2 separate regions of the Homo sapiens genome follow, and region 2 is linked to region 1. Evidence: fine-mapped QTL for protein levels in blood plasma. A gene starts in region 1. The other region holds a variant in brackets. All regions are shown on one strand. Distances are between the middles of the regions.

Region 1 (8,226 bases):
GCCCATACAGACCCTGGGAAGTCCCTCATTTAAGAAGCCATTTTCACTTTGTCTAATCTAGTGTTTCCCAATCTGAACTTGGCCGCTGAACCCTTCTCCTTAGATATAGTTGTGACATGCTGGAGAATTGCCCAGCACACCCGCATCCCAGCGTGTGTGCTCTTTAACACTCATCAGCAAGCAAGGGGCCCCTCTCTGCTGGGCCCACACTGAAAGCGCAGGCTGAGAGCTCCTCCATGTCCGCCTTACTGCTGAGGGGACAAGAGGCATTAGCTGCACCCTGCGGGAGCCTCCTATCAGATCCCTACAGTGGGACTCCCACCCTGGCACAGCCCTCCAGACAGAGGCTGGCCCCTGGAGGCTTCCAGACACCCTGTCCCAGCCACGTGGCCTCGTTCCTGTTCCCCTTCCCTACCCTGCAGGACTCGCCTCCACACTTGTGATGTCTCCTGAAGATAACTCCGGTTGGAAGTTTCTTCTACCTGAAATGAAACCATAACCCCTGCAGCATCCACTTGGGGTGCCAGAGTCCCACCTCCAGCACAGTCTTCATTACTGGCCATGGCAGGGAGGAGTACAGGTTGGCATGGGGAACAGGTGGGACTGTGAGCTGGGAGTCTGGGGGCTGGTTCTGGCTGGGTCACTGGCTTGCTGTGTGATTTTGAGGAAGATGCTTTCCTTTCTGGAAAAGGGGAGAGGGACTCAATGAGCTATAAGGTCCCTCTGAGGAGTCCTTGGACAAAGGAGCCAGGCTGTCAGCTTTGGAGTGACCCAGGATATTCCGGGGACGGGAAGGTGGGGTCCCTTCAGCCTTTGGACCTTGTCCCTTGCCTTGTCCTTAACCCACCCATCCTGTCAGTCATGCCAGTGTTTCCTGAGCAGCCCCTGGGCCAGCCCCTGTCCTAAGAGTTCACAAGCTGGCAAGGACTTGGGAGCCAGTGTGGCACCCTGAGAGCAAAGACATAAGGTACCACAGAAGCCCTGCATCTGTCTGAGAGTCTGGGGTGGGTTCTAACCAGAGGAAAGGACCCTGGGCCTCCACTCCCTGGAGGAGTCCTTCCCCAAATACCGTGTTGCTGCACAGAGGTCCGGGCCACTGCGCTCTGCAGTCTCAGGGGCTGGGATGCAGTGCACTGGGGAGGCGTGTGCTCTGTCTCTTGAAGGGTGACCCCCAGTGCCATGCCAAGACCAGTGGGACTTCCCAGATCTCGAAGCCCCACTTCCATTTCTGTTGATTTGGCCGAGGCACCAGTTAATTTTGGTTTTCAGCAACCGCATCACACTGTTCGTCTGTTTATGGCAGCCAGGAGAAGTGGCAAGGGCCTGGGAGCCTGCTCCTGCCTAGTCGGTTTTTTGTTGTTGTTGTTTTTACGGAGTTTCGCTCTTGTTGCCCAGGCTGGAGTGCAATGGCACGATCTCGGCTCACCGCAACCTCTGCCTCCCGAGTTCAAGCGATTCTCCTGCCTCGGCCTCCCGAGTAGCTGGGATTACAGGCCTGCGCCACCACATCCTGCTAAGTTTGTATTTTTAGTAGAGACGGGGTTTCTCCATGTTGGTCAGGCTAACTCCCACCTAAGGTGATCCACCTGCCTTGGCCTCCCAAAGTGCTGAGATTACAGGCGTGAGCCACCACACCCGGCCCCCAGTCAGTTTTTTGGTTTTTTTGTTTGTTTGTTTGAGGTAAGGTCTCTCACCCAGGCTGGAGGGCAGTGTTGTAAACACAGCTCCCTGCAGCCCTGACCTCCTCGGCGCAGGCAATCCTACCCTCTTAGCCTCCTGAGCAGCTGGGACCACAGGCGCGTGCCACCATGCCCGGCTAATATTTTTATTTTTTGTATAGAGTTTCGCCAGGTTGCCCAGGCTGGTCTGGAACTCCTGAGCTCAAGCGATCCACCTGCCTCAGCCTCCCAAAGTGTTGTGGTGAGCTACTGTGCCTGGTCTGCCTGGTCTCTCGACATACCCCCTCCCCCAGTCTCTCTGGGCCTTGCAACCAGGGCACCAGCCCAGCAAGGCAGGCAAGAGGAGCCCCCGGACCTGATGCCTATAGCCTCCCATCTTAAGCCTCTGAAATGCCCTGTGAAATGGGAAGTGAGGCTCAGAGAAGTCACACATTATGGGCTGAGTCTGGGCCAGCAGTCTTGAGGTGTCTACCAGGATGGCACATTGCCCCATACCTCCCAAGTCCTCCCCCCAGCCTCTGTCGGGCTGTCCTCTGGGGCTGGGCTCAGGGTACACACTCCTCCAGGGCTATCAGGATTAAAATGGAGTTCTCAGCCTTAGGGCCACCCCAGGATTTCCTGGAAAGTCCTTTGGGCTTGGGGAGGGAGGTGAGGGAGTTTTTAGAGCCCCAGAGATCTCACTATGCCCCTAGCTGCTCTGGGTGGAAGTCCACACAGAGGGCAGCACCGAGGGATACTACAAACAGGCAATTTGTCAAAGTGTCTAAAATGGGATGTTTCTGCTCCTGCAGCCCCTGCTTCCGACCCCCGTTACCACCACCACTCAGCTGCTGACCTCCCTGCCCACATCCTGCTCAAGCCTTACTAGCACATGCTACCCAGACTGTCCCAGGCTTTCACAGACAAATCTGCACAGAGGCTGCCAGGCCCTCAAAGCAACCACAGGGGTTAAGGCAGAGCCAAGGGCCAGCATTTCTGGAGCTCCCAGGCAAGGCTGTCTGGGTCTGGCACAGCAGGAGAGCCCACGTGGGCTTAGGAGACTGTCAGATCTGTTTCCTAACTTGGCCTCTACCACTTTTCCAGCTGGGGACCTTAGGCCAGGGGCCTTGGGCTATTCACCTGTAAAATGGGGACAGTGATACCACCCTCACTGGAGGATATGCTATAGCACAACAAAAAGTCCCATTGTCCTAAGGCAGCTAGACACACACAGGGGTCGTTGGGGCAGGAATGGGGGTAAGGGGTCTTTCCATTCCTGACTTGGCAAGCTGAATAATGATGGTAACAAGAAACAACGCAAGGCACTTTATAAGCATCTTGCATCTATTAATTCACCTAACGCTTCTGTGAGGTAGGTACTATTATTTCCAATTTACTGAGGAGGATGCTGAGGTTCAGAGACGTGAAGTGTCCCACTTAAGGTTACCCAGCTAATGACAGCCACAGCCTGGCCAGCTAGCCTCCTCCACACCCTTAAGCTCTCTCTGTTCCTGCTGCCTGAGCCACTGTGACAGGCACACTGCCGGGTCCCAGAGGCTTTAGCAGGAGCCAGCTAAGACCAGCCTGGTAGAGAATGACCCAAGCCAACAGGCCCCTGGATTGGGGAAGGGCCCCACGAGGGGTTGGCTGGGGAGCTCTGAGGTACCCCTTCTGTGTCTGCAGTTTAGAAAGGCCATGATCCCAACACCCACTGATCAAAACTTCTGAGTCCGTAAGTCTCTGATTACAATTCCTTCTAAGGAACAGCCTATAACCCTAACCCAACCTTTGGGGAGTCCATCCTTCTATGATTCAACATCCAGGTGTGACAAGGGAGGGCCTAAAATCTACCCATCACCCAGCTAGGAGGCACAGCAGCCCCACCCGAATCCGACTCAAAGGCCCAGGGTGTCTCTCCTGCCCAGGACCCTTAGGTCTGGCTGGAGGGGAGTCTGGAGACCAGGGCAGGAGCGCGGGGCAAGAGCTCAGTTAGACTGATAATATGGCTCAGGTAGTTTCCACCACAGCTGCGGCTACAACCCACGTGTACTGACCCCTCACCAGGCCGGAGCTGGGGCTCAGGACTGGGCAAATCTAGGAGAGACAGAGGTGTAAGCCAAACCTTGCCTTCAAGGACTTTCAGACCAGCTACAGAACCAGACAAGCCCAGGCCCGGTGTGGTCTGGGCTGGAGGCTTGGCTGGAACAGAGCAGGGGCACCACATAGTCCAGAGACTTCCCGAGGGACAGGAAGGATGGCACCTGAGGTTCCCTTGCCATGCCACCCATAGTCACTGGCCAGCAGCCTTCCTGTTGGGAAAAGGGAGATGGGGGAGGGAACCTTGCCTGACATCTCATCCTGGCCTGAGCTTTGATCTTGGAGCCTCCCAACTTCCCACCAGGATTCCACACTCAGGTGGGCTCCCATCTGGGAGGCTCTGGCCATAGCAGGCAGCTGTTGGGTTCCCTTCTCAGCTCCTCCCACCCCCAATGAGTCCTGCCTCATTAGGGAGGAGAGAAGCAGCCAGTGAGTGTGCCAGGCCCTGGGCTAGGTGCTGGGAGTATGGAGATGTGTGGGGCCAAGGTCCTGCCTCTGAGAGGCGCCCAGTCTGCACCGGCACACAGTCTGCACCGGCACACAGTAGTGGCTCAAATAGTCTCAAACTAAACTGAAACTAACAAAGCAAAGTGCAGAGGGTGTGGCAGGACTCTGGGGCACACCCTCCCCTCTTCCCCACGCCTGCGGCTCCTGATGCCACAGGGGTGCAGGGTAAGGAGAGCCTACTGTTTCCTAAAGGCGCTCACATCTTGTAAAACCAGCAGTTATGGAGCACTTACTGTATGCCTAACTCTGTGTTGAGTGGAGGGCCAAAGAGGAGAACTACTGAGTTTGGGGGCAGTCAGAGCAGCACCTACATCATTGCCCTACAAGAAGGAAGGGGGACTGAGGCTGTTTGCCAGGAGGAATGAGAGGAGACGGGCTTCACAGATGGAGCAAACTGCCAGGAGATGTGGAGAACAGGGTGTCGCGAACCGCTCTGGGAGGGTTCCTGGTGGCTGAGGGGTGGCACGCACCTCCCTTAAAGGGAGCTGGCAGGGGTGTCTTGTCCACTCTGCAGAATGGGCAGGCCCAGGACAGCTGGCCCATCAGACCATTAGAAACAGCGAGTCCGGAGTTCCAGGGGCTTGTCCACGGCCACACAGCAGCCCGTGGCCCCAGGAAGCCAAAGCTCCCAGCCAGTCATCCAGTGGTGGGGGGTTTAGTTCCAGGGGGCCAGAGGTCCTCTGCGGAAGAGAGTGCAAGGCAGTATCCGCGGCAGGCCCAGAGAGGCCAGGACAGGTCAGAAAGGCCTACCCCTCTTTCGCTTGGTACCCTTTCCTCTTTGCGAGGGATGCAAAGGTTATTTATACTTCGGGTCTGCAGGCTGCGGGTGGGGCAGGCACCCCGCCTGGGGCGGGTTGCGGGCGCAGGGGCAGGAATGGGCTTACCTGCTTCCCGCCACCGGGGCTGGGCGGGGCGCTGCGGGGAGGAGGAGCCGGGCACAACCTGTGGACGGCCGCGGCCGGCGGACACACAGCAGCGGGGGCCCGGCCGGGGGTCGCCCGGGGGCCCGGAAGCCGGGGAAGAGCGAGGAAACCAACTTGGAGAGAGGAGTGACCTGGGGGCCGGGGGCGGAGTCGTGAGCGGGGGAGGAGAGAGCCGGCCGCCAGCAAGAGCCGCGCGGCGGCCCAGGAAGCGAGAGCGCCGCCCACCCATCCGGGGCAAGAGCCGCGCCGCAGGAGAGGCAGGCTGGACCGGGGGCTCCCCGGGCCCGCGACCCCCGCCGTGACCCCGCAGCCCCCAGCTCGCCCCCAAGATGATGAAGAGGCAGCTGCACCGCATGCGGCAGCTGGCCCAGACGGGCAGCTTGGGACGGTGAGTGTCACCCGCTTCCAGCCCCACTCTTACCCCGGCAGGACTTGAGGGGTCGTAAAAGGGTCGGGGGAGACGGGGGTGGGGGAGGCTGGGGACAGCTGGGCAGCCACCCTCTGAGCGGCCAGACTCCTGCTCTCTCTTCCTCCTCTCTGAACGCCGCCCCCGTCTCTCGGGCAGAGCTGGAGGAGCAAGGGTGGCCTTTGGGGGAAGGGATGCCCCCCCTTACCGGATTGGAGGGGGCTTCAGGCGGGAGAATGCTCTCTGCCCTAGGACGCTGGGACTTCTCTGCCTCCACGAGTCTCTAAGTGGATGGTCCTCCTGACCTCACTTGTCCCCTCTGGACAATGGGACAGTTCACCACCTCTGCTTGCTGGGCCGGGGAGGGAGGAGGGTCGATTAGGGCCACAGACCTGGGGCGAGGGGAGGAGATGGGTCCTGGCCTGGTGGGAGGAGGGGCCTGCCCCTGGCCTGCAGCGTCCCTCCCCCTCCCCCTCCCCCCAGCCCAGGGGCCTCCTGCTTCTGTCTCGTTTCTGCTTTTCCTGGACTCAGGTGGAAATATCCCCAGGTCTCCCAGCTCCCACCCCCAGCCTCTGAGCCGGTGGCACGGAGGCCGGAAGTTTGGGGAGCCTCTCAGAGCCTGTCTTCTCTGCTCCTCTTCCCCCAGCCTCAGGAGTTCCCCATTCTCTGGGTCCAGGGAGGGGACTGGGTGTCCAGAGACCTGGTTCTAGTCTCACACTGGCACAGATGCCTACATAGCCTGGACAGTCAGACCACCTTGCAGTGGGCCTTGGCATCCCCCATGTGTCCCCAGGTGGGGGCCAAGGGCCTGTGCACCCCTGCCCACAGCTGTAGTCCAGAGTGCTGTGTGACTGTGCCTAGGAGTCTGAGCTCCTGCACTTCCCGTTCTTGGGGCCAGCTAATACTCCTCATCCCGGGGTGGGCTGAGGATTTGGGAGTGGGCAGAAAAGAGGCTTCTGTGTCCCAAAGCTGGGCCCCGGGTGGGTCTCTCAGCCTCCCCTTTAGTTTCATCTGTCCGCCCTCTCTCAGGACACAGCCCTGGGTGGAGGAGGAAAAACCCATGTATCCTATTCCCACCCCCATGGAATGTGCTCCGACTGGGATGAAGCAACTGGGCCACCCAGGGCAGGCCTCAGCTGGGAGGGACAGTGGAAGCACTGGGGTCCAGGTGCCCTGCTGCGGGGAAGGGAAGTAGGGGGCGTTCTAACCCAGGCAGGCTCAGCAGAAGCACTCTCCCCCCCCCCCCCACCACTCCCCGCAGCACCCCGGAGACCGCTGAGTTCCTGGGTGAGGACCTGCTGCAGGTACGTGCCTGGGCCGGGCAGGTGGGAAGGCAGGCCTGTGCAGGCTGTCTCGGAGCAGAGGGCCGGGGCGGGGACGCCAGGTAGGGGCCTGGGTTGAGTCATTCCTCAAGCTGTTGGCCATGGGGTCCCCAGGGGACAGGAGAAAGTTTCCTGCTCAGGGGGAGACAGCCTCTCTTGATCCTTAACCTCCATACCTCCTTCCCAGGTAGAACAGCGGCTGGAGCCGGCCAAGCGGGCAGCCCACAACATCCACAAGCGGCTGCAGGCCTGTCTGCAGGGCCAGAGCGGGGCAGACATGGACAAGCGGGTGGTGAGTGGGGGGTCCCGGGAAGGAGGGGCCTGAGCAGGAGACTTCCATCCAATGGGGAAGCAAGGTCGGGGCTGGGGTTTCCTTGCCAGTCTGAGTGTCTGGCACCAAGGGCATGGAGACTGCTCTGTTCCAAGGCCCCTCTGGCACTGCACTCAAGAGGCCCTATACCTTCCCCATCACCTTTACCCCACTTCCCTGTGCACCAGTTCCCATAAGCCAAGGCCAGGCTTCTGACAGCACCTGAACTTCTCTGTCCAATCAGTGCGCAAGAGCAGGCTGTCAATGGGGCGGCCTCAGAGGGTTTCCTGAAGGAGGTAGCAATTGAGCTGGCTTTTGAGGGATACACGTTTATTAATCAAGAGGCAGCGTTTATTGGCTGATAACCGCCAGCTTGTTACTAACATATGAGTGCACTGTCTCATGGAACACTGGCACAACCCTAGGGGCAGGCATTGCTTTACACATGAGGAACTGGAGGCTCAGAGATAAAGTCACTTGTCCAAGGTCACATAGCTAGTAAGTGGCAGAACTGAGGTTTGAACCCTGGTCTCTGATCCCAGAGCAGGCATTCCCCGTAACTCCAGATGGGGTGGGAGTGTGGGGCCATGTTTTGGAATCAGTTGACAATTCAGTGTGGCCAAGGCAAGGAAATTGGGAGCCATAGAGCGTTTGAACTCAGCGGTGGCTAGGTCAGCCATATATACCCTGGGACAGGGGAAAGAGCTCCCGCTCCCATTCTCCCTCCACCTGTGTGACCTGGGGCAAGCTCCCTGCCCTCCCTGCATCTTAGTTTCCCAGTCTGCAGTAGGACTTGGTCATTCCTTCCTGCCCAGTCAAGTGGCTTCTGGGAAGAGGAAAGGGCACGCCAGATGGAGAGGGGCTCCATCCATGCTCTCAGGGAAATGTCACCCCCACCACGCCTTGTCATCTTGTTTCCACTCTCATCTGGGACTGTGGCCCTCCTGGGTTCCCTCCTCCCCTGCCCCAAGGGGCTGGCCTGGTGCTCAGGCAGGGTGGAGGG
Region 2 (7,658 bases), 16 kb after region 1:
AGGGGAAGGGGAAACGGTCCCGGCCAGTGGAGTGAGGAGCCTGGCGCGGTCTCTGAGAGCCGTCTCCGCTCCTTCTGTCTCCAGACATCAACTTCAACGTGTCAGGCCTCTTCTCAGCTGTTACCCTCCAGGACACAGTCAGTGACAGGCTGGCCTCTGAGGAACTTCCGTCCACTGCCGTGCCCACCCCAGCCACCACCCCGGCTCCGGCTCCGGCTCCAGCTCCAGCTCCGGCCCCAGCCTTGGCTTCAGCAGCTACCAAGGAAAGGTGAGGACTGAGGGGCTTGAATGGCTCCTGTGGTACTCCCACAATCAGCCTGCCTGAGGCGCCATGTCTCAGAGCTGGAAGCTGAATTTTTGGAAATGTAATTATTAGTGTTTTCATCCCAAAGACCGGATCTCCTAGTTTGGAGAGGGTGGGGCAGAGACTCAGAGGCGGAATTTGTCTCAGCCACTGATGTGTGCCCTATTCATCATGTAGCAATTTCCTGAGCACCTACTATATGCCAGGCTTTGTTTCCAGTCCTAGGGAACTCAAGAGATGATCATTTTGGAATCTATAAATACCTTCCAGTTTTGTTTTGTTTTTTTTTTAAGACAGAGTCTCACTCTGTCGCCCAGGCCAGAGTGCAGTGGCACAATCTTGGCTCACTGCAACCTGTGCCTCCCAGGTTCAACTGAGTCTCATGCCTCAGCCTCCCGAGTAACTGGGATTACAGGTGAGTGCCACCACACCTGTCTAATTTTTGTATTTTAAGTAGAGATGGGGTTTCGCCATGTTGGCCAGGCTGGTCTTGAACTCCTGGCCTCAAATGATCCACCCACCTTGGCCCCTGAAAGTGCTGGGATTACAAGTGTAAGCCACTGCACCCAGCCTCTTTTTTTTTTTTTTTTCTGAGATGGAGTTCACTCTGTTGCTTAGGCTGGAGTGCAATGGCGAGATCTTGGCTCACTTGCAGCCTCCCGGGTTCAAGCAATTCTCCTGCCTTAGCCTCCCGAATAGCTGTGACTTCAGGCGTGCACCACCATAGCCGGCTAATTTTTGTATTTTCAGTAGAGACAGGGTTACCCCATGTTGGCCAGGCTGGTTTTGAACTCCTGGCCTCAAGCGATCCGCCTGCCTCAGTCCCCCAAAGTGCTGGGATTACAGGCATGAGCCACAGTGCTTGGCCACCGTCTTCTCTTTGATCGTTTAAATCTGGAAGGGCTTCGTGGTACCGTGGTGCCTCCATACCAAGCAGCTACTATTCAGGATACCACAGAGCACTGCGGCTCACACCTTGAATTTCCTGATGAGCAAGACAAATGCTCACATTTCAGGGCACAGGGAGAGAGAGAGACAGCATCAAGCACAGCCACCAGTGCGTTCTCTCTATAGTGTCAGGTGGAGAGGCGCTGCTAAGGGAGGGGGAGCAGGTTAAGGGGGAGCGTGGGGGCTACTTTAGCTGTGGGGCCAGGAAAGACCTCGCTAAGGAAGAAACGACCAAGCAGAGACCCGAAGGCAGTGAGGAATGAGCCTAGGACCCCCTCTGCTTCTCACCCACTCTCTGGCTTCCAGTGGCCAAAGCATCTCATAAAGATCACGTGGCCCGGCACGGTGGCTCACGCCTGTAATCCCAGCACTTTGGGAGGCCGAGGCAGGCGAGATCGAGACCATCCTGGCTAACACGGTGAAACCCCGTCTCTACTAAAAATACAAAAAATTAGCTGGGCATGTTGGTGGGCGCCTGTAGTCCCAGCTACTCGGGAGGCTGAGGCAGGAGAATGGTGTGAACCCAGGAGGCAGAGCTTGCAGTGAGCCAAGATTGCGCCACTGCACTCCAACCTGGGCAACAGAGCGAGACTCCGTCTCAAAAAAAAAAAAAAAAAGATCACTTGGAGGCAGATTGGGCAACATAGCAAGGCTGTGTCTCTACAAAAAATAAATGAGGTCGGTGTGGTGGTGCACACCTGTGGTCCCAGCTACCCAGAAGGCTGTGGTGGGAGGATTTCTTGACCCTAGGAGGTCGAGGCTGCAGTGAGCAATGATTGTGCCATTGCACTCAGCCTGGGCAACAGAGTGAGATCCTTTCTCAAAAAGAAATGGCCAGGTGTGGTGGCTCACGCCTGTAATCCCAGCACTTTGGGAAGCCAAGGCAGGTAGATCACGTCAGGTCTGGAGTTTGAGACCAGCCTGGCAAACATGGTGAAATCCCATCTCTACTAAAAATGCAAAAAATTAGCCAGGCATGGTAGTGCGCACCTGTAATCCCAGCTACTCGGGAGGCTGAGGCAGGAGAATGGCTTGAACCGGGGAGGCAGAGGTTGCAGTGAGCCAAGATCGTGCCATTGCACTCCAGCCTGAGCAACAAGAGTGAAACTCCATCTCAAAAAAAAAAAAAAAAAGAAAAAGAAATGGCCGGGTGTGGTGGCTCACACCTGTAATCCCAGCACTTTGGGAGGCTGAAGCAGGTGGATCACTTGAAGTCAGGAGTTTGAGACCAGCCTGGCCAACATGGTGAAACCCCATCTCTACTAAAAATGCAAAAAATTAGCAGGGCATGGTGGCGCACGCCTGTAATCTCAGCTACTCAGGAGACCAAGACAGGAGAATCCCATGAACCCAGGAGGCGGAGGTCACAGTGAGCCAAGATCATGCCATCGCACTCCAGCCTGAGCGACAGAGCGAGACTTCTCAACAACAATAACAAAAAAAAACAAG[C/G]CTAGGTGGCGCACACTTGTAATCCCAGCACTTTGGGAGGCCGAGGTGGGCAGAAGATCGCTTGAGACCAGGAGTTCAAGAACAACATGACAAAACCCCGTCTCTACTACAAAAAAACAACAACAAAAAAATCTGGGCATGGTGGTGTGTGCCTATAATCCCAGCTACTCCAGAGGCTGAGGCAGGATAATTGCTTGAACTTTGGAGGTGGAGGCTGCAGTGAGCCAAGATCGCACCACTGCACTCCAGCCTGGGCGACAGAGTGAGACTCCATCTCAAGAAAAAAAACCACATGGAGGCCCTGAGCTGAGGCAGAGGTCAGGCCCTATGTCCCACCTCCCATCCTGGCCCTACCTACCAGGCAGGTGGGGCTCCCTCCTGGTCCCTAGAGGAACATGGACTCTGTCACAGGGTCACAAAGCAGCCAGGGGCTCAGTGGATGCAGACCCCAACCAATGCCAGAAGCATCTTCTGGGAGGGGTGCGTGGCATGGGGACAGAGTGATAGAGAGCGAGTGCTGGGAGGATCCGGACTCCACCTGGCAGCTGGAGACTCCTCAGGATTCCATGAGACTTCTGGGAGGTGGCTAAGTCTGCCCCATCCTCTCCTTCCCTCTGCAGGACAGAGTCTGAGGTGCCTCCCAGACCAGCCTCCCCCAAGGTCACCAGGAGTCCCCCGGAGACAGCTGCCCCAGTGGAGGACATGGCTCGGAGGAGTGAGTTGGCTGTGGGAGGGGAGGAGGGGACAGAGGGTGGGCGGGGAGAGGGGACAGGCAGTCCCAGGTCCTCCTATCTTTTTAGGCAGCCAGGGGAGGCCAGGAGTCAAGGTGATAAAGAGCCCAGGTCTTGCCACCTGGCACTCTGGGTTTAGATTTGACCTTGGGCAGGTGAGTTCACCTGTCTGAGCCTCACCTTCCTCCTCTGTGTAATGGGACAGTGTCTGCACTTACCTTATGGGGCTGCATGGAGCCTGCAGTGGTGCTGCAGGAAGAGTGCCTGGCCCTGGCACACAGCACGTGCCCACTAAGGGGGAGCCGGCGTGAGTACTGGGGTACTGGAGTCCCGTCCCTCCAGAAGCCCAGAGGTCACAGACTACAGTGGAAGGAGGGAGTCTTCAAAGGGCAGTGAAGGGGCTGGGCACAGTGGCTCACACATGTAAACCCAGCACTTTGGGAGGCTGAGGCGGGTGGATCACTTGAGGCCAGGAGTTCAAGACCAGCCTGGCCAACATGGTGAAACCTCACCTCTACTAAAAATACAAAAATTAGCTGGGCATGGTTGCGGGTGCCTATCATCCCAGATACTTAGGAGGCTGAGGCAGGAGAATCACTTGAACCCGGGAGGCAGAAGCTGCAGTGAGCAAAGATCACGCCACTGCACTCCAGCCTGGGTGACAAGAATGAGACTCTGTCTCAAAAAAAAAAAAAGAAAAAAGGCAGTGGCAGTGAAGGAGAGGAGGTGGCAGGGGTGGGAAGAAACCAGGGGCCTCCTTCTGAGCCCCTCTGGCACACTCACCTGTCAGTTTGGCCCAGAGCTGACCAGGTGAGAGAGTGACTGACACTCAGTGGAGGCAATGAGCAGTGGACAGCCAGGAATAGGCGGAACAGCTCTGGGAGCCTCGTGACCAGGGCTGGTAGGTAGTCTACAGTAAAATAAAAATGAACAAGATAGGCCGGGGACAGTGGCTTACACCTGTCATCCCAGCACTTTGAGAGACCGAGGCAGGAGGCTAGCTTGAGCCCTGGAGTTCAAGACCAGCCTGGACAACACAGCGAGACCCTGTCTCAAAATTTAAGAACTTTTAAAAATTCAAAATAAATGGGCAAGATAATTTCAGAGAACAAAAAGTCCTGCGAAGAAAATACATCTGGAAAATGTGACGGAGCAGCTGGGGTGGGGCATGGGGTGGGACTCTAACTAGGGTGCTCGGGGAGGGCCTCCAAGGGGGCAAAGGGCACAAGGAGAGGCCTAGACGATGAGGAGCCAGCCGCAGAAACGGTGTTCCCGGCAGAGGGAACAGCAGATGCAAAGGTTGTGAGGGGGCACGGAGCTTGGTGGATTCACCACAGGCCACGTGGACACTCAGCCTCCCTCACCCTTTCCTTCCTCAACAGCCAAGCGCCCGGCGCCAGCCCGGCCCACCATGCCGCCCCCCCAGGTCTCCGGCTCCCGCTCCTCCCCTCCAGCCCCGCCCTTGCCCCCTGGCTCTGGCAGCCCTGGGACCCCCCAAGCCCTGCCCCGACGTCTGGTTGGCAGCAGCCTCCGAGCCCCCACAGTGCCACCCCCGTTACCCCCCACACCCCCTCAGCCTGCCCGGCGCCAAAGCCGGCGTTCACCAGCCTCCCCCAGCCCGGCCTCCCCAGGTCCAGCCTCCCCCAGCCCAGTCTCTTTGAGTAACCCTGCACAGGTGGACCTGGGGGCTGCCACAGCAGAGGGAGGAGCCCCTGAGGCTATCAGTGGGGTCCCCACTCCCCCAGCTATCCCCCCTCAGCCCCGCCCCAGGAGCCTTGCCTCAGAGACCAACTGAGTGGCTGGTTTCTCCCTAAGCAGCCCTCAGCACCCCCTCCCTCCCCACCTGGCCCTCCCAGGACAGCTCTCGCCCCCCACAAAGGGGCATGGGCCTCCAGCCTTTGCCCACAAGTGCCTCAGTGCCCACTGGGTCGGCCCCCATGGCCAGGAGGGCTCAGGACAATCCTCTATTTCCTGACCTTTTCCTCGTCCACCCTGGGCTTGGGGACCCCCCCACCGGACTCTCCACTCTCCGGCAGGTCCTAGGGGAGCCACCGGAAGGAAGGAGAGGTTTGCCTGCTCCTACGGGACTGATTCTTCTCTTGCCGACATGTTTTTTGTAAGGCTGGTAAATAAATTATTTTGGACAAAACTGGAGCAGCTGCCCAAATGATAGTTTTATTTTCTGTCCTTGAAATAAAGAAGCCAATTTTATAAAGGGGAAAACAATACATATTCTTTGCCTCCTTTCTTCCTGTCTGAAGTGAGATCACAGCAGACATTTTTAGAGCTTTCTCTGCACTACATGCTGTGCTGTTCTGTGGATGATTTCCACTTAATCTTCTCCTACTGCAGGAAATACCATTACCTCTTAGCAGTGAGGAGACTGAGGCCCAGACAGAAGTGACCTGCCAAGGTCACACGGCAGTCAGGCAGGGGCCTGGGATTAGAGCCTAGGTCTGACTCCAAAGCCTGGCTTGTCCCTCACATTCTGGGCAATTTACTTAACTTCTTGGTATCCCTTTTCCTCATTTGTGAAACTTTATAACAATTCCCTCCACAGAGGTATTGCTCTCCATTGAAAACCAAAGCACCACCCTTGGCCCACAGAAGCCCCTACCGCTCCCACTGTTTCCTGGACCCCTCACTCTCCTTCCGGGAGGAGGCTGGGAAGCCTCCCCAAGGAGCAGGGATGGATCTGTCCTCAAACCTTCCCTAAATCTGCTCTGTGCCAGGCCCTGAGCTAGCTCCAAGACTTAACCCTACACCCAAAGAGTTCCCAAACAGACAGGCAGAAGCAACCATTAGAATCAAGTGTCTGGCCAGGCACGGTGTCTCATGCCTATAATCCCAGCACTGGGAGCCTGAGGCAGGAGGATCACTTGAGCCCAGGAGTTCTAGACCAGCCTGGACAACATAGTGAGACCCTGTCTCTACAAAAAAAAAAATTTTAATTAACTGGGTGTAGTGGCGTGTGCCTGTAGTCTCAGCAACTAGGAAGGCTGAGGCAGGAGGATCGCTTGAGCCCAGGAGTTGGAGGCTTCAGTGAGCAGTGATCATGCCACTGCACTCCAGCCTGGGTGACGGTGTAAGACCCTGTCTCAAAAACAAAAAAAATCAAGTGTCATTGCACTGGGAGCCCATATTAGCCAAGTTAGGGGTGGCCATATAACCTAGACTCATGGTATGGGGTGGGTGGTTAAGAACGGCTTCCTGGAGAAGGTGATATTTAAGGGAAGTCTTTCAGGAGCTGACCTGAAGGTGAATTTTGTTTATTTTTATTTATTTTATTTATTTTTTATTTTTTGTTTATTTTTTTTTGAGATGGAGTCTCGCTCTGTTGCCCAGGCTGGAGTGCATTGGCACGATCTCAGGTCGCTGCAAGCTCCGCCTCCTGGGTTCAAGCAATTCTCCTGCCTCAGCCTCCCGAGTAGCTGGGACTACAGGCACCCGCCACCACGCCTAGCTAATTTTTTTCTTTTTTTTTTTTTTTTTTTTTGTATTTTTAGTAGAGACGGGGTTTCACCGTAGCCAGGATGGTCTCGATCTCCTGACCTCGTGATCCGCCCACCTCAGCCTCCCAAAGTGCTGGGATTACAGGCGTGAGCCACCGAGCCCGGCCCTGAAGGTGAAATTTTTAAAGGAAAAAGGAACATTCAGGCCAAGGAGACTATCTATGCAAAGGCCAGGAGCAAAAGGCTTAGGGCACTTGGGGAATAGGAGCTAGTTGAGCTTCCAAGGTTGGGTACAAGGTACAGTTTTTCCCAAGTCGTTGGAGCTCCAGTTGCTCCTGGGGGTCACAGCCTTATCTGAAGTTGGCAGACAACTTCAAAACTGTGACACCACAGCTCACAATTCATTCATCCCCACACTGCAGACCAGTGGCTCCTCAAAGGTCCCAAGACCTGTGGTTGCTTCCAGATCACAAGGCCTCCTCCCTAAGACAGGGACCCAGCCAACCTGGGTCACCCCATTACTATTCTGGGCAATTGGCCACGACCATTCTGGATCCTGCCCTCCCGGGGCGTGCTGCAGTGACAGCCTACCAGCCTCTAGCCCAGTGCTTCCCTACCCTATCCTAGCTCACGGTAGAATCCCTGGAATTAAACCAACTAACCAACAAACCAAAAAATGCCCAGTCTTCACCCAAAACACTTACATGAGGATCTGTCCTGCTACACATCGGTGATTTCAAAAGCATTTGTCAAGACATTGAACTGTACATTTAA

Evidence for each region. PIP is the chance, under the fine-mapping model, that this variant and not a neighbour inherited with it causes the effect. The UK Biobank Pharma Proteomics Project read protein levels with antibody pairs (Olink). The fine-mapping took linkage between variants from a reference panel, not from the people measured, so its PIPs are less certain.
Region 2: its variant is fine-mapped to the plasma level of the SH3BP1 protein (UK Biobank, PIP above 0.99).

What each region holds. Positions count from the first base shown.
Region 1 is chr22:37,634,274-37,642,499 of GRCh38, forward strand. SH3BP1 (SH3 domain binding protein 1) reads left to right here and starts at 5,396. Exons shown (of 18, transcript NM_018957.6): 1 at 5,396-5,573; 2 at 6,853-6,895; 3 at 7,101-7,205. The coding sequence starts at 5,515. It overlaps PDXP-DT (PDXP divergent transcript), which reads right to left. Exons shown (of 6, transcript NR_109952.1): 6 at 7,559-8,226. RefSeq lists an enhancer at 65-154 and silencers at 4,069-4,363, 4,994-5,143, 5,174-5,613.
Region 2 is chr22:37,650,458-37,658,115 of GRCh38, forward strand. SH3BP1 (SH3 domain binding protein 1) reads left to right here. Exons shown (of 18, transcript NM_018957.6): 16 at 85-268; 17 at 3,322-3,416; 18 at 4,815-5,660. The coding sequence ends at 5,227. PDXP-DT (PDXP divergent transcript) reads right to left here. Exons shown (of 6, transcript NR_109952.1): 2 at 1-255. Among named protein-coding and RNA genes, the nearest start is that of PDXP-DT, 4.1 kb to the right of the region's middle. The variant C/G (reference allele first, on the strand shown) is at 2,702.